Linked DNA regions of Homo sapiens: region 2 is linked to region 1. A link means that fine-mapping ties the variant in region 1 to the expression of a gene that starts in the linked region. Tissue or cell type: liver. Region 1 holds a variant in brackets; the other region holds the start of a gene. All regions are shown on one strand. Distances are between the middles of the regions.

What was found. PIP is the estimated chance that this variant, and not a neighbour inherited with it, causes the effect.
Region 2: SMIM24 starts here. The variant in region 1 is fine-mapped to the expression of SMIM24 in liver (GTEx, PIP above 0.99).

Annotation. Positions count from the first base shown.
Region 1 is chr19:3,832,460-3,837,459 of GRCh38, reverse strand. It overlaps ZFR2 (zinc finger RNA binding protein 2), which reads left to right. Exons shown (of 19, transcript NM_015174.2): 2 at 2,477-2,687; 3 at 3,682-3,796. Among named protein-coding and RNA genes, the nearest start is that of ZFR2, 34 kb to the left of the region's middle. The variant G/A (reference allele first, on the strand shown) is at 2,595.
Region 2 is chr19:3,476,073-3,483,268 of GRCh38, reverse strand. SMIM24 (small integral membrane protein 24) reads left to right here and starts at 2,744. Exons shown (of 4, transcript NM_001136503.2): 1 at 2,744-2,872; 2 at 4,340-4,451; 3 at 4,791-4,850. The coding sequence starts at 2,806. SMIM44 (small integral membrane protein 44) reads left to right here. Exons shown (of 2, transcript NM_001395954.1): 1 at 1-67; 2 at 218-1,159. The coding sequence ends at 465. It overlaps LOC105372246 (a long non-coding RNA gene), which reads right to left and starts at 291. Exons shown (of 5, transcript XR_936264.2): 1 at 1-291. RefSeq lists an enhancer at 1-50.

The DNA of each region.
Region 1 (5,000 bases):
ATGGTGTTCATCAAGTTCCACAGTCATGGTGTTCATCAAGTTCCACAGTCACGGTGTTCATCGAGTGTCACAGTCATGGTGTTCATCGAGTGTCATGGTCATGGTGTTCATCGGGTGTCTGTGTCATGGTGTCCATCAAGTGTCCACAGTCATGGTGTTCATGAATGTCCAGCATGTGGACACTCAGGACAAGTGTGTGAAAATGCTAGAGGAATGAATGCTTGAAGCCAGGAGGCAAAGGTTGCAGTGAGCCGAGATTGCACCACTGCACTCCAACCTGGGTGACAGAGTGAGACTCTGTCTCAAAAAATAAAAAAAAGCTGTAACTTTCATGAGGTTTTCCTGTGCCGCAGAGAATGTCTCCTTGTCCCCGGCCCTGACACTGCGGATGACTCACCTGGCTGGCAGGAGTCTACAGCAGGGCCCGGTTGGGGGCCAGGTGGTGTAGAGCCTCTTTGCCTTCTAATCCATTTTCCCCAAAATGACCCTCATACCTTGCTCCTTCCCCTATGGGGTTGGAGGTTCACTTTTTAATATATATCCATAGCGGTATTGGGCTAAAATCTTTACTGATACTTTTCCCTGGCAAATGGGCTTTTAGACTCCAGAACTGTCTACTGGGTAGCTGATATTTAGCTGAACAAGGGGCATTGGGGTCAGAAAGATCTGGGTCTGAACCCTCCCCTGCACTTGACATGAGCCCCTGGTCCTCCTTGGAGGTTTTCTCGTCTAGACCGTGGGGAGCGATGGTGCCGCATGTCCTCTGAAGGGTGAATGAGGCCATGTGGACAAAGGCCTCGGCACTGTGCAAACCCTACAAAGACTCATTCTTTTTAGTGAAGAGTTATTAGTTTAGTGCTAACTAAAGTAATTATTTTAATACTCAGGTGGACTGACTTGTTCTGTTAAAAAAAATACAGTCAGAGCCTGGGCAACATAGTGAGACCCCACCTCTACCAAAATTTTTTAAAGAATTAACTGGGCATGGTTTCACACTTGTGTTCTCAGCTACTGAGAGGCTGAGGCAGGGTTGCTTGAGCTTGGGAAGTTGAGGCTGCAGTGGGCTGTGATCGTAGCACTGAACTTCAACCTGGGTGACAGAGCGAGACCCTTTCTCAAAAACAAATTTTTTTTTTAAAGAGAAAATACGGTTGGCCTTCCGCATTCATAGGCACTGCATCCATGGATTCAACCAGCCAAGGGTGGAAAATATTTGGGAAAAAAATGCATCTGTACTGAACATGTATGGGGTTTTTCCTTCTCATTGTTCCCTAAACAATGGAATGTAACAGCCATCGGCATAGTGCTTACATTGTATTAGGTATTATAAGTAATCCAGAGATGATTTACAGTATATGGGATGATATGTTTAGGTTATATGCAAACACTATATCGTTCTATGTCAGGGACTCAAGCATCCATGGATTTTGGCATCTGAGGGGGTCCTGGAACTCAACCCTTGCAGATAGTGAGGGACAGCTGTACTGTTTTTTGTTTTGTTTGTTTTGAGACAGAGTCTTACTCTGTTGCTCAGGCTGGAGTTCAGTGGTGAGATCATAGCTCACTGCAGCCTCTACTTCCTGGGCTCAAGCCATCCTCCCACCTCAGCCTCCTGAGTAGCTGGCACTGCAGGCGTGTACTATCACACTCGCTAATTGTTTGTTTTTTTTTAATTTTGGTGGAGACAAGGTCTCATTATGTTGTCCAGGTTGGTCTCAAACACCTGAGCTCAAGCAATCCTCCCGCCTTGGCCTCCCAAGGTGCTGGGATTACAGGCATGAGCTACCACACCCGGCCAGACACTGTGCTGTTAAAGTTCAATTTTCTGGCCGGGCGTGGTGGCTCACACCTGTAATCTCAGCACTTTGGGAGGCCGAGGCGGCCAGATCATGAGGTCAGGAGGTTGAGACCATCCTAGTTAACACGGTGAAATCCTGTCTCTACTAAAAATACAAAAAAAAAAAAAAAAGGCTGGGCGTGGTGGTGGGCGCCTGTAGTCCCAGCTACTCGGGAGGCTGAGGCAGGAGAATTGCTTGAACCTGGGAGGCGGAGGTTGCAGTGAGCTAAGATCGTGCCACTGCACTCCATCCTGGGCAACAGAGCGAGACCCTGTCTCAAAAAATAAAAAAGTTCAATTTTCTTTGAAGAATCTTGACATGGAGAAAAAGCCCTGCCACACAAGTAGATCATCTGCAAAGCGGAAGTCAGATGGGTTCGAGTCCCAGCTCTGCCACTGACAGTGCCTCAGTTTCTTCATCTGTAAATTGGGTGCAGTGATAGGCCCAGCATTACAGCGTTGTTGTGAGACGGTGTTAATTTGTGTAAAGTGCTTCCGGCCGTGCCTGGGCTCCTAGGAGGGTCTCCACCAAGCAGGGCAGCTCAGGTCCAGTGGTGGCTGGAATTGACACCGTCAACTCAGTGCACCTGAGAACTCGCTCTAACCTGGTGGGGCTTTGGTGTGTGTTTGTGGTTCTAGCGCCCAGCCTCCGACCCTTCCCCTGCCCACTGTGGGGGCCAGCTATACTGCACAACCCACTCCTGGGATGGACCCTGCCGTGAACCCGGCCTTTCCCCCAGCTGCCCCGGCAGGGTAC[G/A]GTGGATACCAGCCCCACTCCGGCCAGGACTTCGCCTACGGCAGCCGACCCCAGGAGCCCGTCCCCACGGCCACCACCATGGCTACCTACCAGGTATCCAGTCCTTTCTTTGACCAGCGTTGCCGGGAAACGTGGGTCGCCTTGCATGGGTGAGAGCGGTGGGCTTCCCACAGCTACTCCTTCTCCCAGGCCTCTTAACCGTGATCCTTCCTTCGGGACCCTTCTGCTGGCATTGCGTACCCGTGGTGGGGAGAAATCAGGGCAGAGTCGCTTCCGAAAGAATCCACTGCTCTCGGGGACAGGCCGCATGCGTACCTCCACGTCGGGGCAGTGGGGACAGTGACGGCGCACAGAGCTTTGTCCCAGCTTCAGCAGTGACTATGAAGGAGGAGGAGGGTCGCCTGGGTTACAGGACCCCTCCCTGGTCAGGGCAGATGGCCTCGGCCACCTGGGCCCAGAGAGACCAGGACTCACCCCACCTTCCCCACGCTCCAGATTCCTACCTTCTAAGAGGGAGTCTGTGGTGTGTGGGGTGCACCTGGGTGCTGACGACCTCACCTTCCCAACCGAGGCACTCAGGCTGCAGATCCAGCCACCGTGTTCCCACTTGGTGTCGCAAAGATGTCCCCCGTGACCATGCTCCAATTTCCCAGCTCTGCCACCCGCACCTCGTCCCCAGATTGTGTCGGTCAACGGCATCAGAGGCCACCCTGTCACTCAAGCTCAGCACCCACCTGACCCCACCCTCTTCCTCCCCTCTCCATTTCCTTGCCAAGGCCTCGGGGGCTTCTCCCTGCAAACCCGCCCTCTCCTGCCGCACCAAGCGTCCTCTTGTAAATTGCAGTCGAACTCTTGGAAATTAGTGTCGGCTCCATGACAGCTGCTGTGTCAACCACGCCCCCTGCCCCCTGCCCCCTGCCCCCTGCCCCCTGCCTCCGGGCCAGGGCCTGGTCCTGGGCAGACGCTTAGGAGCCAGCGCTGCAGGAAGGACTAAGTGCAGAGTGCAGTGTGGCAGGGCGCGTCGCACCCACCGCCTGAGCTGCTCTCCTCCGTTCTCTGTCTCTCTCCTGCCGAAACCCCCACATAGGACAGTTACAGCTACGGACAGTCAGCAGCTGCCAGGAGCTATGAGGACAGGCCGTACTTCCAGTCTGCTGCCCTCCAGTCTGGGCGCATGACAGCCGCAGACTCCGGCCAGCCAGGTGAGCCATCTGCAGGGTCGGGGCTGGGAACGAGGAGACGCTCCCCGCAGCACAGGGAAACCTTGGGAAACTTACTTTTTTTTTTTTTTAGACAGAGTCTCGCTCTGTTGCCCAGGCTGGAGTGCAGTGGTGCGATCTCGGCTCACTGCAAGCTTCGCCTCCCAGGTTAAAGCCATTCTCCTGCCTCAGCCTCCCGAGTAGCTGGGACTACAAGTGCCTGCAACCACGCCCGGCTAATTTTTTGTATTTTTAGTAGAGACGGGGTTTCACAGTATTAGCCAGGATGGTCTCCATCTCCTGACCTCGTGATCCGCCCGCCTTGGCCTCCCAAAGTGCTGCGATTACAGGCGTGAGCCACCATGCCCGGCCTGAAAGTTACATCTTTTCTTTTCTTTTCTTTTTTTTTTTTTTTTTTGAGACGGAGTCTCACTCTGTTGCCCAGGCTGGAGTGCAGTGGTGCGATCTCAGCTCACTGCACCCTCTGCCTCCCAGGTTCAAACAATCCTCCTGCCTCAGCCTCCCAAGTAGCTGGGACTGCAGGCACGCGCCACCATGCCTGGCTAATTTTTTTCTATTTTTAGTAGAAACGGGGTTTCACTATGTTAGCCAGGCTGGTCTTGAACTCCTGACATCAGGTGATCCACCTGCCTCGGCCTCCCAAAGTGCTGGGATTACAGGCGTGAGCCACTGCACCCCGTGAAAGTTACATGTTAACCATCCTAGAGGCCGGGCACGGTGGCTCACGCCTGTAATCCCAACACTTTGGGAGGCCCGAGGTGGGAGAATTGCTTGAACCTAGGAGTTCGAGACCAGCCTGGGCAACATAGTAAGACCCCCGTCTCTACAAAAAATGCAAAAAAATTAGCCAGGCATGGTGGTGTGCACCTGTAGTCCCAGCTACCCAGGAGGCTGAGGTAGGAGGTTCGCCTGAGCCCAGGAACTGAGCTGCAGTGAGCTGTGATCGCACCACTGCACTCCAGCCTGGGCAGCAGAGCAAGACCCTGTCTCTAAAAAATAAAAAATAAAAAAAAAAAACAAAATAAAGGCCGGGTGCAGCAGCTCACGCCTGTAATCCCAGCACTTTGCGAGGCAGAGGCGGGTGGATCACAAGGTCAAGCGATCGAGACCATCCTGGCCAACATGGTGAAACCCCATCTCTACTAAAAATAGAAAAATTAGCCGGGCAGGGTGGCGCATGCTTGTA
Region 2 (7,196 bases), 360 kb after region 1:
GTGGTGGTGGCCGTCGCCTACGCCATCGTCGGGCACCTCATCAAAGACCTCGCCCACGACCTGGCCGGTGAGCTGCCCCCACCGAAACCCAGCTGGGGCCGATGCTGGGTCACCCTGGGTGGGTGGTCAGGGGATCCTAGTGCTTCTCCTAGCTGAGGAGGGGACAGAGGAGGGTGGCCGGGGCCGGGGAGTTGCCTCACCAGCTCCCTTGCCGCAGACTGGGCGTTTGGCCCGAAGCCAGACCAGGAGGCCGCACCCCGGGAGCTGCGCCCCAGCCTGACCGGCGAGGACTTGGAGGGGCTGGACCTGCAGCTGGCCCTGGCCTGGCAGGGCGAGGAGGACGCCGGCGGGGGTGGGGAGGGAGCCCCCTCTGAACCCCCGCCTCCCCCGGAGCCCCGCCGCCCCTCCATTGCCTTCAAGGACCCCCCATCCCGAAGCTCCTTCTGGAAGCTGATGGCAACTTGAATCCTGAATCCGGGTTCCGGACGCTTTGGCGGTCGTGTAGACAGAACTTACGCGCGCCGGAGCCCTTTCTGCAAACCCTGAGCTGCCCGGTCGCAGCGGACGGCTTTCTCCTTCCCAGCCGGCAGGTTCCGGGGGTTGGACGCTGGCGACTTTCACATACGCAGAGCCTGCCCGGCTCAGCCTCAGCCAAGCCGTCAGCAAACTGTGAATTAGAAACACTAGGGCGATTTAAAACGTTGTAATATTATCGGCCAACCTTACCGAGTGCTTAGCGTGTACCTGCTGCTGTGCAGAGCAGGCTTTTTCTATGCAGTATCTCATTTAATCCTCCGAGGTAGGACTGATCGCCCCCACTTAACAGATGGGGAAACCGAGGCACGCAGTGATGAAGTGGCTTCGCCAAGGTCTCAGAGCACAGAGTGCTTTTCTCAGAAAAAGCCCAGACAACTGACTGACTTTGGAGGGCAGGATCTCCAAGGCGGGTCCTGCCCCCACCCCCTCTGCTGGGCTCCCCTACCTCCAAATCTTCTCCAGCCCCCGCCTCGGCTGCTGGGTTTGCTTGTCTCTGGGGGGTGGTCCTGACTTCCTAATCAGATCGAGAGCTCCCAGACAGCACCAAGGCCTCCTTCTCTTCCAAGCCCTGCACAAGACGGGATACACAGTCAGAGTTTAATAGATGCCTGCCTGGCTGGTTCAAGCAGACCTGTGGCCATCCTGGGGCTGGGATGTGTGAGCCCCATCCTGCTGAGTGGCCGGTCTGCTCAGCGGTCATCCGCAGACCTCCGGAAGAGAGGAAGTGACAGCGACTCAGCAGGCGCTCCATAAACACCTGTGCGATGACGCCGGGCCTTCCTACCACTCGTCTGGGCCATGGCTGCTCCCGTGTCAGCTGGGGCGGGGTCCCCCTTCGCCCGGGCAGGGCCCACTATCTAATCAGCCGAGGGACCAAGGTTGAGGACAGGAGAGCCTGGAGCCTGAGTCATCAACGCTCCCGGGCATCCCCACGTGAGAGCGTCCCGGTTTGCAGGTGGACCACGGGCATGTGGCCTCTGCACACCTTCCCTGTCCCTGTGTGCTCCCATGGCTGCTTGTGGGTCCTCAGGGGCCAAGAGCCTGGGCGAGGCAGGATAAGCTGGGGGCGAGGCAGACCCGGCTTCAAATCCCAGGTCAGACCTGCTGCGTGACCTTGACTTTCCTGGGCACAATGAGACCGGCACCATTTCACGGGGTGTTAAGAAAAGGAAATGCGATCTGTGAAATTGCCGAGCACGGAGCCTCATGTGTACTCTGAGAGCACAAAAGGTGACTCTCAAATTTGCTTTGAGAGACAAGGTCTTGTTCTGTTGCCCAGGCTGGAGTGCGGTGGTGCATGCAGTGGTGCAGTCGTAGCTCGCTGCAGCCTCGAACTCCTGGGCTCAAGCGATCCTCTCACCTCAGTCTCTTTGAGTAGCTGAGACTACAGGTGCAGGCCACCATGCTCAGCTAAGTTTTACATTTTTTATTTTAGAGACGGGAGGAGGTTGGTCTGGAACTCCTGGCCTCAAGCGATTCTCCCGCCTTAGCCTCCCAGAGTGCTGGGATTACAGGCGTGAGACACTGTACCCAGCCTTGGTAACTCTTTGTATTTCTAATTTTTTTTATTTCCTTTGAGACAGGGTCTTCCTCTGTCACCCAGGCTGGAGTGCGGTGGTGCGGCCATAACTGGCTGCAGCCTCAAACTCCTGGGCTCAAGTGATCCTCCCACTTCAGCACACCCTAGTAGCTGGGCCTGCAGGTGCCCGCCGCGCCTGGCTAATTTTTCTATTTTTGTAGAGGTAGGGCTTGACTAAGTTGCCCAGGTTAGGCTCAAGGATCTGCCCGCGTTGGCCTCTCAATGTAGTGGGATTACAGGTGTGAGGCACTGGGTGGGCGCACCCTTCTTAAGATATTCCAGTTGTATTTGTGAGTTCCCCCTGTGTCCAGAGTGGCACGGGGCCTGGGCCGGGACGGGAGGTCGCAGCCATCTCAGCTCAGCCCCTGCAGCAGGGATCACAAAGGGGTGGCCCTGAGGCTGATGGTCCCCAGGGCAGGGTGCAGGGAGGAGGGACTCCCTCAGTTAATTGTTACACAGGTCCAGAGTCTGGCCTCCCGGAGGGAGAGCGATGGGGCAGGAGCTGGCAGGGGAGGGGCAGGATGCCCAATCAGGTGGTGCCAGGGGCGGGCCCCGCTCCCAGGTCTCAGGCATCCCCCGCCCGGGGACCGCCTGTGCCTTATCACGGGGAGGCAGGGCCTCGCCCACACCAAACCTGTGGACGCCGACCCGGGACCGCCGCTGGCTGGCTGCTGGCTCACTCGACCGTCATGGAGACCCTGGGGGCCCTTCTGGTGCTGGAGTTTCTGCTCCTCTCCCCGGTGGAGGCCCAGCAGGGTAGGTGCAGGGGGGCGGGAGGGGGCGTCGCGGGATAGGGGAGTTGGTCAGGTGATCACCATCTCCCAATTTTCCATGGCGAGAAAAAGGAGAGGGGGCAGGAAGAAAAGGAAGAGTGGCTTGGAGGCCCTTCTCAACCCCCGCAGTACCGCCCGGCCTCCCTCTCGCTGGGCTCTGCCCTCCTCTGTAAGGGACCCCCCACCGCCCACCCGAGCCTTTCCCCTCTCCAGCCCTTCTGAGCACACCTGGCTGAACCCCCCGCCTTGAGCTCGGCCCCACTCTGAGCTCGGGCCTCCTTTACAAGCCCCTCCCCATCTGAGTCCCCGCCTCTTTTGTGAACCGCTCCTTCTCACTCCTCCTCCTTTATAAACCCCTCCCCGAGCCCCTCCTCCTCTGTAAGCCCCTCCCCTCTGGGCTCCTCCTTCTTTATAAGCCCCTCCCCCTGAGCCTCTGCCTCCTCTATAAGCCCCTCTCCCTCTGAGCCCCCTAGTTCACAAGCCTCTCCCCATCCGAGCCCCTTCCTCCTTTGTAAGCACCTCCTTCTCACTCTCCCTCCTTTATAAACCCCTCCCCGAGTCCCTCCTCCTCTGTAAGCCCCTCCCCTCTGAGCTCCTCCTTCTTTATAAGCCCCTCCCCCTGAGCCTCTGCCTCCTCTACAAGCCCCTCCCACTCTGAGCCCCCTAGTTCACAAGCCCCTCCCCATCTGAGCCTCTTCCTCCTCTGTAAGCCCCTCCTTCTCACTCATCCTTTATAGACCCCTCCCTGAGCCCCTCGTCTGTTGTAAGCCCCTCCCCTCTGAGCTCCTCCTTCTTTATAAGCCCCTCCTCCTGAGCCTCTGCCGCCTTTATAAGCCCCTCCCACTCTGAGACCCTCTCCCCTTATAAGCACCTCCCCTCTGAGCTCCTCCTTTATAAGCCCCTCCCTCTAAGCCTCTGCCTCCTTTTATAAGCTCCCCCCAACAGCTCCTCTGTTGTAAGCCCCAACCCCCCAGACTCTTCTTTATAAGCCCTCCCCATCTGAGCCACCTCCTCCTTCATAAGCCCCTCCCCTGAGCTTGTTCTCCTTTATAAACCCCACCCCTGAGCCACTCCTTTGTCATAAGCCCCGCCCTTCTGAGGTCCGCCTTTATAAGCCCCTCCCCCTGAGCCTCTGCCTGCATTATAAGCCCCGCCCCTTCTGAGCCCTCCTGATTTGTAAACTCCGTCCCCTCTAAGCCCCCCTTCTTTTATAAGCCCCTCCCCTCTCTGGGCCCCCAGGCTCCCTCCCACTCTGGTAAGGTACCCTCCCCCTCTCTAAACCCTCCCGACCCCCCTACGCCATCCAGGTCTCTGAAGCTCCGTCCCTTTCCAATACCCCCTCTGTCGGAGCACCCCCAGTGACCTTCTCTCTCTCCTTGCTAGGGTGGTGGGGGAAGGGGGTCTTCTGACCTTTTCTTCCTCTGAGTCGAACCTCCCCAACTTCCTGCAGCCACGGAGCATCGCCTGAAGCCGTGGCTGGTGGGCCTGGCTGCGGTAGTCGGCTTCCTGTTCATCGTCTATTTGGTCTTGCTGGCCAACCGCCTCTGGTGTTCCAAGGCCAGGTGGGTGCCCGCCCCCACCCCGCTGCCCCCACAGCCCTGCCCCCACCCCCAGCTTCCCAACCCTCTCTGGTACCCCCATCACCAGCCTCAAAGTCCGAAGGTCTCCCATTTCCCTGCTGCTCCTCCAACCTCTACTCTCAGAGCCCAGATCCCGGGCTTGCACCCGCCCGTCTCCCCAAGACAACGAGCCAGGCAGCCCAGCCCTTCCTTGCGTCCTGGGGTTCATGAGCCCCGGCTGGGAGGTTGGGACAGAGGCTGAGGCTGTCACACCGCTTCCTTCCCTTTACCGCCCCCTTTCTCCTCTCCCGCCCCCTTCCACCTTTCCCTTTATCTCTGCAGGGCTGAGGACGAGGAGGAGACCACGTTCAGAATGGAGTCCAACCTATACCAGGACCAGAGGTACTATGCGTGCGGATGCTGGGGGTCTGTGTGAACCCCTCCTCGGGGTGGGGGAATGGGTGTGCGCAGATGACCTTGCTGTCCTGAATCCTTCAAACACATTCCTGCCCTGGGATCTTCACCTTTCCTGTATCTTCTGGCAGCTCCTTCTCCTCCTCCAGTCCCTAGTCAGGGGTTTCCAGCCTGGCCACCAGCCTTCCTGACACTGTCCCCAGCCCCAAGTCTGATTCATGCTTATCACCAGTGGAGCTGTCTTAGTTGTTCACTAATTTTGAGACATTACGTGGTGCCTTCCAGTTGTGTAGGCAACTTAGCTTTTGTCCTGGCTGTGTCCTCATACCCAGCATTGGGCCTGGAACACAGGAGGTGCTTAATAAATACCTGTTGAAGAAGACTGTGGTGTAGGATTGTGTAGGTGTCTGTACAAGGCCTAGGTATGGGCGACCCACCTGGACTCAGTGCCTCCTATGGCTCTGACTGCCTCCCAACCTGAGGATTCCCACAGAGGACTCAGGGATGCAGACCTCCATCTTCCATCCACCCATCACCCACTCATCCACCCACTCACCCATTCATCCACTCACCCATTCACCCACTCACCCACCATCCATCCATCCATCATCCACTCATCCACCCACTCACCCATTCACCCACTCACCCATCCACCCACTCACCCATTCACCCACTCACCCATCCATCCATCACCCACCATCCATCCATCACCCACCATCCATCCATCCATCACCCACCCATCCACCCACTCACCCATCCACCCACTCACCCATTCACCCACTCACCTATCCACCCACTCACCCATCCACCCACTCACCCATCCATCACCCATTCACCCACTCACCCATCCACCCACTCACCCATCTACCCACTCACCCATCCATCCATCACCCACCATCCATCCATCCATCATCCATCCATCCATCATCCATTCATCACCCATCTGTTCACTCACCCAGCTGCCCACCCACCCATCTATTCACCTACCACTTATCCACCCACTCACCCATCCATTCATCACCCCCCATCCATTCATCACCCATCCACCCATCACCTACCCATCCACCCACCCACCATCCATCCACCCACCATCTGTCTATCATCCATCCATCCATCCATCCATCCATCCATCCATCCACTCACCCATCCCCCAACCCATCCATTCACCAACCCGTCCACCCACTCACCCATCCATTCATCACTCATCCATCCATCACCCACCCCCATCCATTCATCACCTACCCATCCACCCACCCACCATCCATCCACCGACCATCCATGATCCATCCATCCATCCATCCATCCATCCATCCATCACCCATCTATTCACTCACCCACCCCCCGACCTATCCATTCACCAATCCATCCACCCACTCACCCATCCACCCACCCACTCATCTGTTCACACACCCATCCATCTACCCACCCATCTATCCATCAGCCATCCATTCACCATCCATCCACCCACCCATCTATTCATCCACCCATCAATCCATCATCCATCCACCCACCCACCCATCCACCCATCCATCCATCCATCCATCCATCCATCACCTATCCATCCATCACCCATCTATTCACTCATTCATCCACCCACACAGCCATCCATCCACCTACCCATTTATCCATCCATCCATCCTTCCATCCATCCATCCATCCATCCATCCAGGGCTGGGGGCTCTGTCTTGGGCAAAGGCTTGGGGACAGGAGTAGGAGAGTGGGAGCTGGGAGGTGACCAGCCTGGCTGGGAGAGTCTCAGCTGAGTCCAAGATGTGCCTGAGGGAGAGGACCTGAGTGGTGGCTTTGTCTAAGACCTGGCTCAGCCCCAGTAAAATATGATTCCTACTCCCAGGATGTACTGGGGGATCTGGATCCCACCTGTGCACCTGTACCTGTAGCTTCCTTTCTGCCTTGTTCAATCCTCCATCCATCCACCCAACCATCCACTTGTACATCCATCTATCAGTCTGCCCGTGCAGTCCTCACCCTCCAACCACCCATCCATCAGTCCACCTACCCATTAGCCCATTGATCTGTCCACTCACTGATACACGCACCCACCCACCTATGCGTCCATCGAACTATGCAGTCTTCACTCTCCAACTGTCCATCCATCAGTCTATCTATCCATTAGCTCATTGATCCATCCACCCACCTACAGTCTCATTCATCCTCCATCTACCTATCCATTGGTATGTCATTCTCTTCTTCCTCCAATTCATCCATTCATCTACTTATTAATCTGTCCCTCCCTCCATGCAACCATCAATTCACCCAACTGCTTATCTACTCATCCATCCATCCACCTATACATTCATTCATTGATCTATACAT